Regions from separate parts of the Homo sapiens genome. Here region 2 is linked to region 1. Evidence: fine-mapped expression QTL. A gene starts in region 1. The other region holds a variant in brackets. All regions are shown on one strand. Distances are from middle to middle. Region 1 holds the start of FKTN (fukutin). Region 2 overlaps FKTN (fukutin).

Region 1 (5,387 bases):
GCCCCTGTGGCAGGCTTAAGCTAGAAGTAAAAAGAGACCCAGGGGATCAGGGAAGGGCAGGCCAACCTAGTATCACTTTCTAGTACACTTCTGAAGAATCTGCGAATCGCATATTTGAACCTAGATTTCTGTTCCTTGAGAATACATGTTAAAGTAGAAGAGTATAACATTTTATTTGTTGGTTAACGCTCAGCTATTTAGACACTGAAAATATGTCAGGGTTGGCTTTCATTTGTATTCTTGGCCCAGACCCTACAAATGTTAGGAGTCGGCCAGGATCCTTACATGTGTGCACAGCTGAGTGGTTTATAGAACATGAATATTTACTTGTAAGAGAGGCTGTTTTTATGCATCCTTGTACCCACTCTTTCAGCTGTATTTGCTATCCAGATTAAAGCATACTGACTTGACGTTTGCCATGAGCTGAGGGCTCACATTTGACCTTTCAGTATGCTTGATAAGTAACACTGCCACCAGTTTAGTTGTATATTTACCTTCAGTTATGTTTGTTCCCAAACCTGCTTATGTAGGTGGTAGTCACTGTTGTAGTCATGTAAGTATGTAAACCAATTATATAAATATATAAACCAAAATAAATATGAAATGAGTATGAAAAGGTACTTATAAGAAAAGTACGAGAACCATTAGAGATGAAGAGTTTAAAAAGTTGCAAAGTTAGTTGTGGCCAAAGTAATTGTGAGTGATAGGGGAAGATTTTTAAAAATAAATTCCAGGACTCCAAATTTATATTCCTTCACTTGTATCTTTAAGTTCCTGGTCCATTTTACAGAAACAGAAACTACAAATGATGGATGATGCATTATGTCTATGGTTTTGTAAGAAAAACAGTGAGATACTCTAATCAGCTGGTCCATGCTTAAAATGAACTTAGTTCAAAACAGAAGATTGGCCATTGTAACCCTCTACTGAAACTGCCTTTTTGAGAAGGTTTATTCAGAACTAGATTTGTTATACACTTGGAAAGTATTTATTTCTAAGAACCTGATAATTTTTCCCTTTTCCTGTTACTTTTAATTATAATTTCCAAATATACAGAAAAGTAGAAAGCCAGTGCTTTGTGCTCATCACCTAATCAATTGTTAACATTTTGCCATGTTTGTGCTATCTATTTTGTTTTAAAATGTCACCTGTAAGTATGCTATATGCATCCATGATGGCTTTTAAAAACAGCCACATTCTGTTAACATTCTTAGCAAAATTAACAGTAATTCTGTACTATTATCTAATGGATCAGTCCATACTAAAATTTCAGTTGTCTCAGAAGTATCTTTTTACAGTTATCTTGTTCAAATCAAGATCTAGACAGGGTCCACACATTGTACTCCGTTACATCTCTTAAATATTTGATTTTACAATAGTTCCCTCTGCTTTTAAATGCCATTTATGAAAAAAACTGAGGAATTTGTCTGGTAGAATGTCCCGTTTTCTGAATTTAGTTGCTTCTCTATATCCTGTATTAGATCTAGAGTTTGAGTAAATGCAGGTTCAATTTTTAGGCAAGAATCCTTCACAGGTGTGGCTGTGTACTTTCTATCACATCAGGAAGTACATAATATATGCTTGTCCCAAATTTAGTGAGATTAAGATCAGTGGGTTTAGGTGATGCCAGTCTATTATAAAGTTCCCCATCAACCTTTCACCTTAATTTTATCATCTATTGATGTTGCCCTTTCGATTATTTTATTAGGAGTTACAAAATCGTGATTGTTTTATCATCCTCCATTTATTAGCTGGAACTCTTATAAGTACTTTGGTTACACTAAAATTCAATTCATACAAGAAAGGCAGGATAAATGCTTGATGTTTTCCCTTATCAAGTTTTAGAATATTTAATCTTCAACTTGGCAATCTTCAATCACGACTGAATTTTATTTTTTAAGGAGTCATTATAAACTCAAGAATTTTTATATTTGATGTGTTTCAATCAATAGCAAGTATGTGATGCTCAAGTTTTCCCATGTCCCATCACGTTAGCACCTGTGTTAATGATGCCATTAAGCTTTGATAACTTACTTCCTCTTGGTGTAACCTTCCACTTTTTTTTATTAACCTACTGAGTACCTACCCGTTCTGAGTGCATTGGATGAGAGGACTTCAACAGTAAGCTTGTATGTGCATAGGAAATTTCTGGAAGGAAAAACAAAAAGTTGGTAAATGTCATAACCTGTAGGAAGTGAGGAAGATTTTTTCTTCCTTTTCTTTCTGTACTGATAGAATTAAAAACAAAGCTTAGAAAACAAATATATGATGGGAGTATTTTCCGTTTTGTAGAAATAAATTATAATTACAGTAACTGGTTTAGTGAATTATGGTTTTCAAAAATTTATAAGAAGATTAATATCTGAGCCTTAACAACCACCTTTTGGATTACACCGTTAAAAGAACCAAAGTGAGAGGATCGCTTGAGGCCAAGAGTTCGAGACCAGCCTGGGCAAGATGGTGAGGACGCCCTCCCCCCCACCCCCGCCACACCCCGCCCTGCTAGCCCCCAACGTCTCTACAAAAAAAGAAAAGAAAAAAGTTAATCAGGTACAAAATTGTATCCAGCCTTAAACTGGAGGGCAACAGGTCGCTAAATCTTGAATGTCATAAAGGCACCTCAACTTCATGAGGAATAGTGAACGCAGCTGCTATTTTCCACTCTATCCCCTAGCTCTACTAATTGTATCCAAACCAAACTTCAGGGAGTTATGCTGAATCCCTCTAGCAAAGCACACGCACTAAAAAAACCACTCGTTTATCAGAAGTTCACATTTAACGGGCTTGGAAAACGGCTCAGCTGCTGCCTCCAGTTCATCTTCCGCTGTCGAAAGCGTTTCAGAACTTAAACTCTCAGATTGCCTCAGTGCGCTGCTGTAGTTGTCAATTAGGCAAGAGATAAAAAAGGGCTTTGGCTAAGTGGCTAGATTATAAAAGCGAGGAATCGCCAGGGCTCAGTGAACTTCTGGCGGTGAGGATGCGACAAGAGTCACAGGAAAGCCGAGGCTGGGGCTGGACCGTGGGAACGTCCCAGCAGGAACCAAGCCAGCCTCCGCCGCTCAGCACTTGACGGCGGCTTTTGCGGCGGTTGCTGTGAGTGCCGTAAAGCGGAGCGGCTGCAGCCTGCTGTTGAGTGAGGTAAGGTACGGGAGGCTCAGGTCGGTACCCGGGGATGGGTGGGCGCCTTCAGACAGGTACCGCTGGCGACTCGGGTGCCCTTACCGGGCATCCTCCAGCATTCTGGGCACCTGCCTACCCCTTGGTGAGGAGGCCGGCCACAGGCTGAGCGCGCTCCGGGCTGGGTACTCCTCAGTCAGTCCACGAGCATCGCGTGGTAGACTTCCACTTGGCCAGTCCTTCCCGCACTTCTGGGCGTGTCATCAGGTGAAATCTTAATCCTGGGACAGATGAAAGGTTGGAGGACGATCGAGACTCTTGTAGTAGCCGGGTTAGGGTAGTGACCCCTGACCTCAGGTTATCCGCCCGCGTTGGCCTCTCAAAGTGCTGAGATTACAGCCGTGAGCCACCGCGCCCGGCCTGAAATTTACAATTTCTCATTTAACATGAGGTAAGCCACATTTCTCTTGGCTTCAGTTTTGTCAGATGTGGAAAAAAAAAAAAAAGGACCTAGATGATATATCAGATTCTTTATGCTTTTGAAGATAGCACGTTTCCAGTCGGTAAAAATCAAGCTGTGAACAAATGACAAAGTGAATGATAGAGCAGTATATTAGAAATTGGGCAGATGGAAGCCCAGTAGAAAAGGCTGTGTTTGAGCTAGACTCTGAGGATAAATAGGGTTTGAACGATTGGAAACCATCTCTGTTGGGCCATGGACAAAGATATCAAATGCAGGAATAAGCATTTATATTTTAGCGATTCTATTTGTGGACATAAGTTTAGTGAGGGTAGAGGATTTGGGAAGGCTGGCATTGAACGGTGAAAGAACTCTTAGTGGAAAGGAAGTGCAGGGTGTTCTGACAAGGAAGAAGAAAGGAACCGGGGAAATGCCGAAAGAACAATACGCAGGACTTGATTTCTTGGATCTGGGTGATGATATTTTTAACCTGCGTTTCTAAAAAGTAAGTTTAAGTGCTGTTGGCAAAAATGGGAATTCTGTTGAATTCCAGCATGCAATAGTGTACTGGGAATAAAGTGATTTAGATCGTAGAGTGCTGAGGTTGCCAATAACTAGCCTCTTGGCTGTCATTTAATTCTTCTAGAGCCTATTCTCCATAAGGTGATGTTGGGCCAGCTGATCTCTCTTCTCTAAAGCCTGTAAAACTAGAGACTGTGAGGATGGAGAGCTAGTTACTTTCTTCTGGACTGGGAGAGGACGATAGTTGACAGAGAATAAAATTGTTAATTTTGGGGCTGGACGCGGTGGCTCACGCCTGTAATCCCAGCACTTTGGGAGGCTGAGGCGGGTGGATCACCTGAGGCCAAGGAGTTCGAAACCAGCCTGGCCAACATGGTGAAACCCTATCTCTACTAAAAATACAACAAATTAGCCGGGTGTGGTGGCGGGCGCCTGTAATCCCAGCTACTCCTGAGGCTGAGGCAGGAGAATCGCTTGAACTTGGGAGGCAGAGGTTGCAGTGAGCCAAGATCAGGCCACTGCACTCCGGCCTGGGCAACAAGAGCGAAACTCTGTCTCAAAAAAAAAAAAAAGTTAATTTTGAACATGTTAAATTTGAGGTGAGGTGCAGGAAATAGAGTTGAAAATATAGGCAGATAGAGTGCATGGACTGTAATTTAAATAGTGTTTTCTCTCACAGGTGGTAGTTAAAATCTTGAGAATGGATTTGGTTTCAGGGAGAGATTGTAGAGAGAGTAACTATAGGCCATACCCACAGAGAGGAGGTTGGAGAAATTATTGAAGGAGGCATGTGGATCTCAGAGCTAAGAGCAAGGAAGGAGTTCTTTTTAAAAAAGTTACATATAGTTGTAGATTCTCAGGGGCCCAGTGTTGTTATTAAGCTAATTTAACAGCATTTACAGCAAATAATAAGCACCTACTTCTGGGAATTCTGGCAGAAAATAAATAATTCAAATAGATATAATCTCCACTGCCTAATTGTCTACCCAGAAGTGGTATCATTTACATATTTATTTATTCAACAAATATTTATATGTTTCAAGCACTGCTGGTTCTAGGGATATAACGACGAGCAAGGTAGACATTGTTCTTATCCTCCCTGCATGTAAAGCCCTTAGCATCTACATCAGTGCTTTTCAAATTTTAATGTACATATGAATCATCTGAGGATTTTATTAAAATGTAGATTATGAATCAGTAGGTGGGGGCTGAAAATTCTGTATTACTAACAAGCTCCAATGTGATACTGATGTTCTTAGGACCATACTTTTAAGTGACAAGAATCTAG
Region 2 (5,387 bases), 37 kb after region 1:
TGGGTGCCTGTAATCCTAGCTACTCAGAAGGCTGAGGCAGGAAAATTGCTTGAAACTGGATAGCAGAGGTTGCAGTGAGCCACGATCATACCACTGCAATCCAGCTTGGGCAACAAGAGTGAACTCTGTCTCAAAAAAAAGAAAAAAAGAAATTTCTTCTTCCAGGTACCCTAAACTATCACTCTCGAGTTCAGAGTTTCACAGATCTCTAGGGCCAGGGCACAATGCAGCCAGGTTGTTTGCTAAGGCATAACAAAAGTGACTTTTTGCTTCACCTCCCAATACATTCCTGATTTCCATCTGAGACTTCCTTAGCCTGGGCTTCATTGTCCATATCACTATAAGCATCTTGATCACAACCATTCAACAAGTCTCTAGGAAGTTTCAAATTTTCCCTCATCTTCCTGTCTTCTTCTGAGCCCTCCAAACTTTCCCTTTGCCTATTACCCAGTTCCAAAGTTACTTCCACATTTTCAGACACCTTACAGCAACACTGCTTTCCTGGTACCAATTTTCTGTAGTTAGTCTGTTCTCGAATTGCTATAAAGAAACACCTAAGACTGGGTAATTTATAAAGGAAAGTTTAATTGTCTCATTGTTCTAGAGGCTGTACAGGAAGCATGATACTGGCATCTGCTTGGCTTCTGTGGAGGCCTCAGGAAACTTAGAATCATGGCAGAAGGTGAAGGCGGAACCAGCACTTCATATGGCTGGAGCAGGAAGAAGAGAGAGAGGGAGGAGGTGCTACAGTCTTTTAAACAGTTAGATCTCAGGATAACTCACTCACTCATTATCACAAGAACAGCACCAAAGGGATGGTGCTAAATCCGTCACGAGAAACTGTTTACATGATACAGTCACCTCCCACCAGGTACTGCCTCCAACACTGGGGATTACAATTCAGTATGAGATTTGGTGGGGCACAGATCCAAAGCACATCAGGTGCCTATTTGACATTCAAATGAAGAAGGTGAATAGACAATTGGCTATATAAGTCTGGGTAGAGTGGGTTGGGAGTACAAATGGAGTGTTGTAAGCATATAGATGGTGTCTAAAGCCATATGACTAGATGAGATACTAAGGAAGTGAATATAGATTTTTAAAGGGGGAGAAAGAAAGTGCCAACATCTGAGGTTTGGGACCCTCCAACACATCAGGGAAGTAGGAAGAACTGACAAGTTAAAGAAGCAGCCAGAGAGAAACAGAGAAAAAACAGAAATATGGTGATACAGAGAGCTAAGTGAATGAAGTGTTTCAGTGAGGCAGAGGTTGTCAACAATTCTTGGTATATCAAATAAGATAAGTATTGATAATTGACCGTTGGATTTAGCAATGTTCAGGTCATTGGTGATCTTGATGATGCTCAGCAGAGTGAATTTAAAATGAAGTGAGTTCATGGGAGGAGAGGAATTGGAGGCAATGAGAAGAGACAACCCATTAGGAGTTTTGCTGTAATGGGGGACAGAAAGTTGTTCTTTGGGAAAAGAGGAGTTGAGAAGTTTTTGTGTTTTGTTTTAATTATTAGTGTTTTAAGATGGAATAAATAATAGTCATGTTTGTATACTGATGGGAATGATCCATCAGAGAAAGAAAAATTGCTGGAGCAATGTCTTTGTCCAGTCAAGGGGGGATGGGATTTAGTGCATAAGTGGAGAGGCTGGCCTTAGATAGGAACATAGACAATTCATCTGTTATGACAGAAGGGAAGGTGTATTATATGGATATAATTCTTGTACAGTAGGTGGGAAGATGTGGTGGGGGTTTTTGAAAATTATTTTCAAATTTCTTTTTTCTCAGTGAAATAGAAAGCAATGCCATAAGTTGAAAGATAGGATAGGGAGGTGTTAGAAAAAAGGGGGAAAAGTCATCTAGGAGAATGAGACAGTTAATACACAAGGGGAATGTAGTATGATTTCTGGGCAGAATTAAAGCCCCACTTGGGATTAGTAGTCATGAATTTAAATTGACATCAGCCAGATATGGTGTCTCACACCTGGAATCCCAGCACTTTGGGAGGCGGAAGCAAGTGGATCACTTGAGATCAGCCTAGGCAATATGGTGACAACCTGTCTTTATGAAAAATACAAAAATTAGCCAGGTGTGGTAGTGCATGCCTCTATAGTTTCAGCTGCTAGGAAGACTGAGGTAGGAGTATCACTTGAGTCTGGGAGGTTGAGGCTGCAGTGAGCCGTGATCACGCCACTGCACTCCAGCCTGGGCAACAGAGACCCCTGTCTCATTAATAATAGTAATAATAATAAAGTGATATCAGTCAGCAGCCACATTAGCTGCACAGTTGCAGGTGCAGAATAAGTAGAAAGTTGGCCTTTGCTGAGCAAATAAAATGAAGTCAGATGGAGGAAAGTTGTCAGTGTATACAAGAGAATGATTGTGAAACATGAATATTTCCGATTGCATTTTTCATAATAGCCAAAAGCTGGAAATAACCTAAATGTTCATCAACTAATGAATGAATATACAATGGAATATTAGCCATAAAAGGAAATGAAGTACTGATACATGCCACAGCATGAATGAACTTTGAAAACATCATGCTTAGTGAAAAACCAGATGTAAAAGGCCACATATATGATTCCATTTTTATGTAGTGTCCATAATGGGCAAATCCACAGAGAAGATAATTAGTGTTATGATTGGGGCTGAGTGGAGGAGGAAAGGGGAGTGGCTGTTAATAGGAACATAGTTTCTTTTTGGAGTGATTAAAA[T/C]ATTCTGGAATTAGATAGTGGTAATAGTTGCACAACTCTAAACATACTAAAAATCACTTTAGAAAGGCAGATTTTATGGTATGTGAATTATATCTCAATAAAGCTATATAAAAATAACATGCTAGCTCACTAGAAATTTGCTTATCCCAAACTCAACAAATTGAACAGCTCAGAAATATAGCTGAGCTGTATTTGTAATCAACTAATGTAGGACTAAGGTGAACAAGTAGCTGTATTACAATGTTTGCAGTCTCTTTTCAGGTTTCAAGATTACAGTTGTTTTTTTCTCAGACATCCCTTAGTATTAAAATGTTATTGGCTAAGTTGCAGAGCTTGTGAGGAGAGACCAATTCTGGCTCAGTCTTAATTACTTAGTATCTTCATCTCTCCATCCCTTCCTCTCCCCTTCCAATTAACAAACCTTTACTAAGCTATAAAAATCATCAAGCACTATCCTAGGTGCTACTGGTTATACAAAGATGGATTGGACTTTGTCCCTCCCCTTGAATGTGAGGTTTAATGGGGAAATGAGGTTTAGGAACTTGGAGCACATTTCATTTTTAGGGTGAGACTACTCTAATCGTTCTTCAGCATCCTCCCATCTATAGCTTATAGATAACGTATGCACTCAAGGCATAAGAAACTTATTTGGATCTTCATTACGCTTGAAACATTCTTCCTTTTGTCTCTAGAACATCAGACATTCTTTCTCCTCTTACTCTAAAGTATTTTGGGGCTACCAGATGAAAACTCATAATAATTTTCTTCTGATGCTCTAGACCTGAAATATCTTTTATAAAAACTTCAACATTCAAAATTACGATGTATGTTAGGCAAAGCGTGCATACTGGTGCTATCTGCAAAACAAATAATAATGTTTACCTTGCAGGATTGTTGTGAGGGATCAATGAGTATACATAATTGATATATGGAAGTGTCAAACACACGAGCTCTTCAATAAACATTAGTATACTTTATCACTTTGCCAAAGTCTACAAACACTAATTTTATATATGGCAATATGTTGAGATTGCAGATATAGACATAGACCTTAACAGACAAACCCTAATTCCAAAGAGTTTGCCATTCATTGATGGAAATTAATTGGTTCAGAGATGTTGACCATGTCTACCTTATTATTTAATAACTTAATTAACTTACTACAAATCTATCGATGTTTTCCATCTTGGATTTTTATATCATAAAAATGTAGAATTCTTAGCTCATGACTATATGAAAAATAGATATTTGATAATGCTTTTTAATGATTATAAGCTAATTATATTTTGAATCTCATGCCTAACTGAAATGTAATGTTGCATGCTGGACTTTGAATTTACTAAAAAGTTCTTTTGTTGTCTTCCTAGAATGGAGCTGGTTTGTCAAAATCCAAAGGAAGCCGAATTGGATTTGATAGCACACAGTGGGTATGTAGAATAAACAAGAAATTTCTCAATTATAATGTTCATTTAGTTCATTCATTTACTCCGTAAGTATTTGTTGAATGATGGCAATAATAATAGCTACCTTGTGTGGTGGGTGGCCGGTTGGTAGTGGCAGGTAAGGGACAGGCCCTTTACCAAGTGCTTTATGCAATGTCTTATTTAGTCCCTATAGAAAGTTTAAGAAGTGAGTAAATATTGTTACTCTCAATTCACTTAGAGAGATTAAACTTAGTTGGCTGATAATTTGGTAAGACCAGATTCTGTCTGCCTCTAAAACCCACATTCACTGAGCTATGGTGTTTCCCTAAATGAATGAATATATGAATCAGATTTATTTGAATAAGGGAAAAGTAATGATCAGGAATAAAAATCTATTCAACCTATTCCTTTATAAGATGAGGGGAAACCAGCAATATATACAATATATCCTTGTTTTGTTTTAGAAATTTCAGAACCTACACATTGATAAAATATATTTTCCTATGTTTTAAAACTAAATTTAGAAAGAAAAACATTGCTGGGTTACTAATAAAACACAACATTTATTCTGTTAGCATACATTATGGGAATGACCAGATATTTCTTGATACACTTCAATCTTTGGCTTCTCTATAACTAGAGATGTGGAACACTTTAAATTAGAAGTGGATTTTCAGATCACCAAGCAGTGGTCATTTTAGATCATTGCTAACACCAAGTAGATTTTGAACTACTGTTTAAAAGTAAAGTCTGGGATATCCTATTATCAGGCTCCCCAGCTCTCTAGTCTATAAGTGTCAATGTAAACTTTTAATTTATTAAAAATAGCAATTGTTTTGCTCTGTGAATTTAGGGTATTCTGAGGATAAAGGTAAGCATGATATACTTGGAAGTTATACTACCCAGTCACAGTTATAAAGATTTTAGATTAAATTAAAAAGAGGTATTTTGTATGCTTCTCTGTAACACTTCTCTACCTCCATCCCACCCTTAGGAAACACATACACCTAATACTTGGACCTGATTTATCATCTTGTGGTTGAAGTAATTTGCTGAGATTTAAAATTCAGTATTTTAACAGCCAAAGGCAACAGGGGTGATCTTTCATACATTTTAACATTATAAGATGTGATGATACTTAGAGAAACATATATTTTTCAGATTTGCCATTTATTAGGAGTCTTCATCTGTACACTGTAAAGCAATTTCAGCAAAAAATTTAAAGCCGTAGTAGCTT

Evidence for each region. PIP is the estimated chance that this variant, and not a neighbour inherited with it, causes the effect.
Region 2: its variant is the best candidate, but not a certain one, in a credible set for the expression of FKTN in whole blood (TOPMed, PIP 0.89).

The regions. Positions count from the first base shown.
Region 1 is chr9:105,555,028-105,560,414 of GRCh38, forward strand. It overlaps FKTN (fukutin), which reads left to right and starts at 3,104. Exons shown (of 11, transcript NM_001079802.2): 1 at 3,104-3,138. FKTN-AS1 (FKTN antisense RNA 1) reads right to left here and starts at 3,279. Exons shown (of 3, transcript NR_184141.1): 1 at 2,743-3,279; 2 at 2,087-2,148. RefSeq lists enhancers at 2,965-3,014, 3,175-3,364.
Region 2 is chr9:105,592,505-105,597,891 of GRCh38, forward strand. It overlaps FKTN (fukutin), which reads left to right. Exons shown (of 11, transcript NM_001079802.2): 4 at 4,094-4,153. Among named protein-coding and RNA genes, the nearest start is that of FKTN-AS1, 37 kb to the left of the region's middle. RefSeq lists an enhancer at 601-1,140. The variant T/C (reference allele first, on the strand shown) is at 2,727.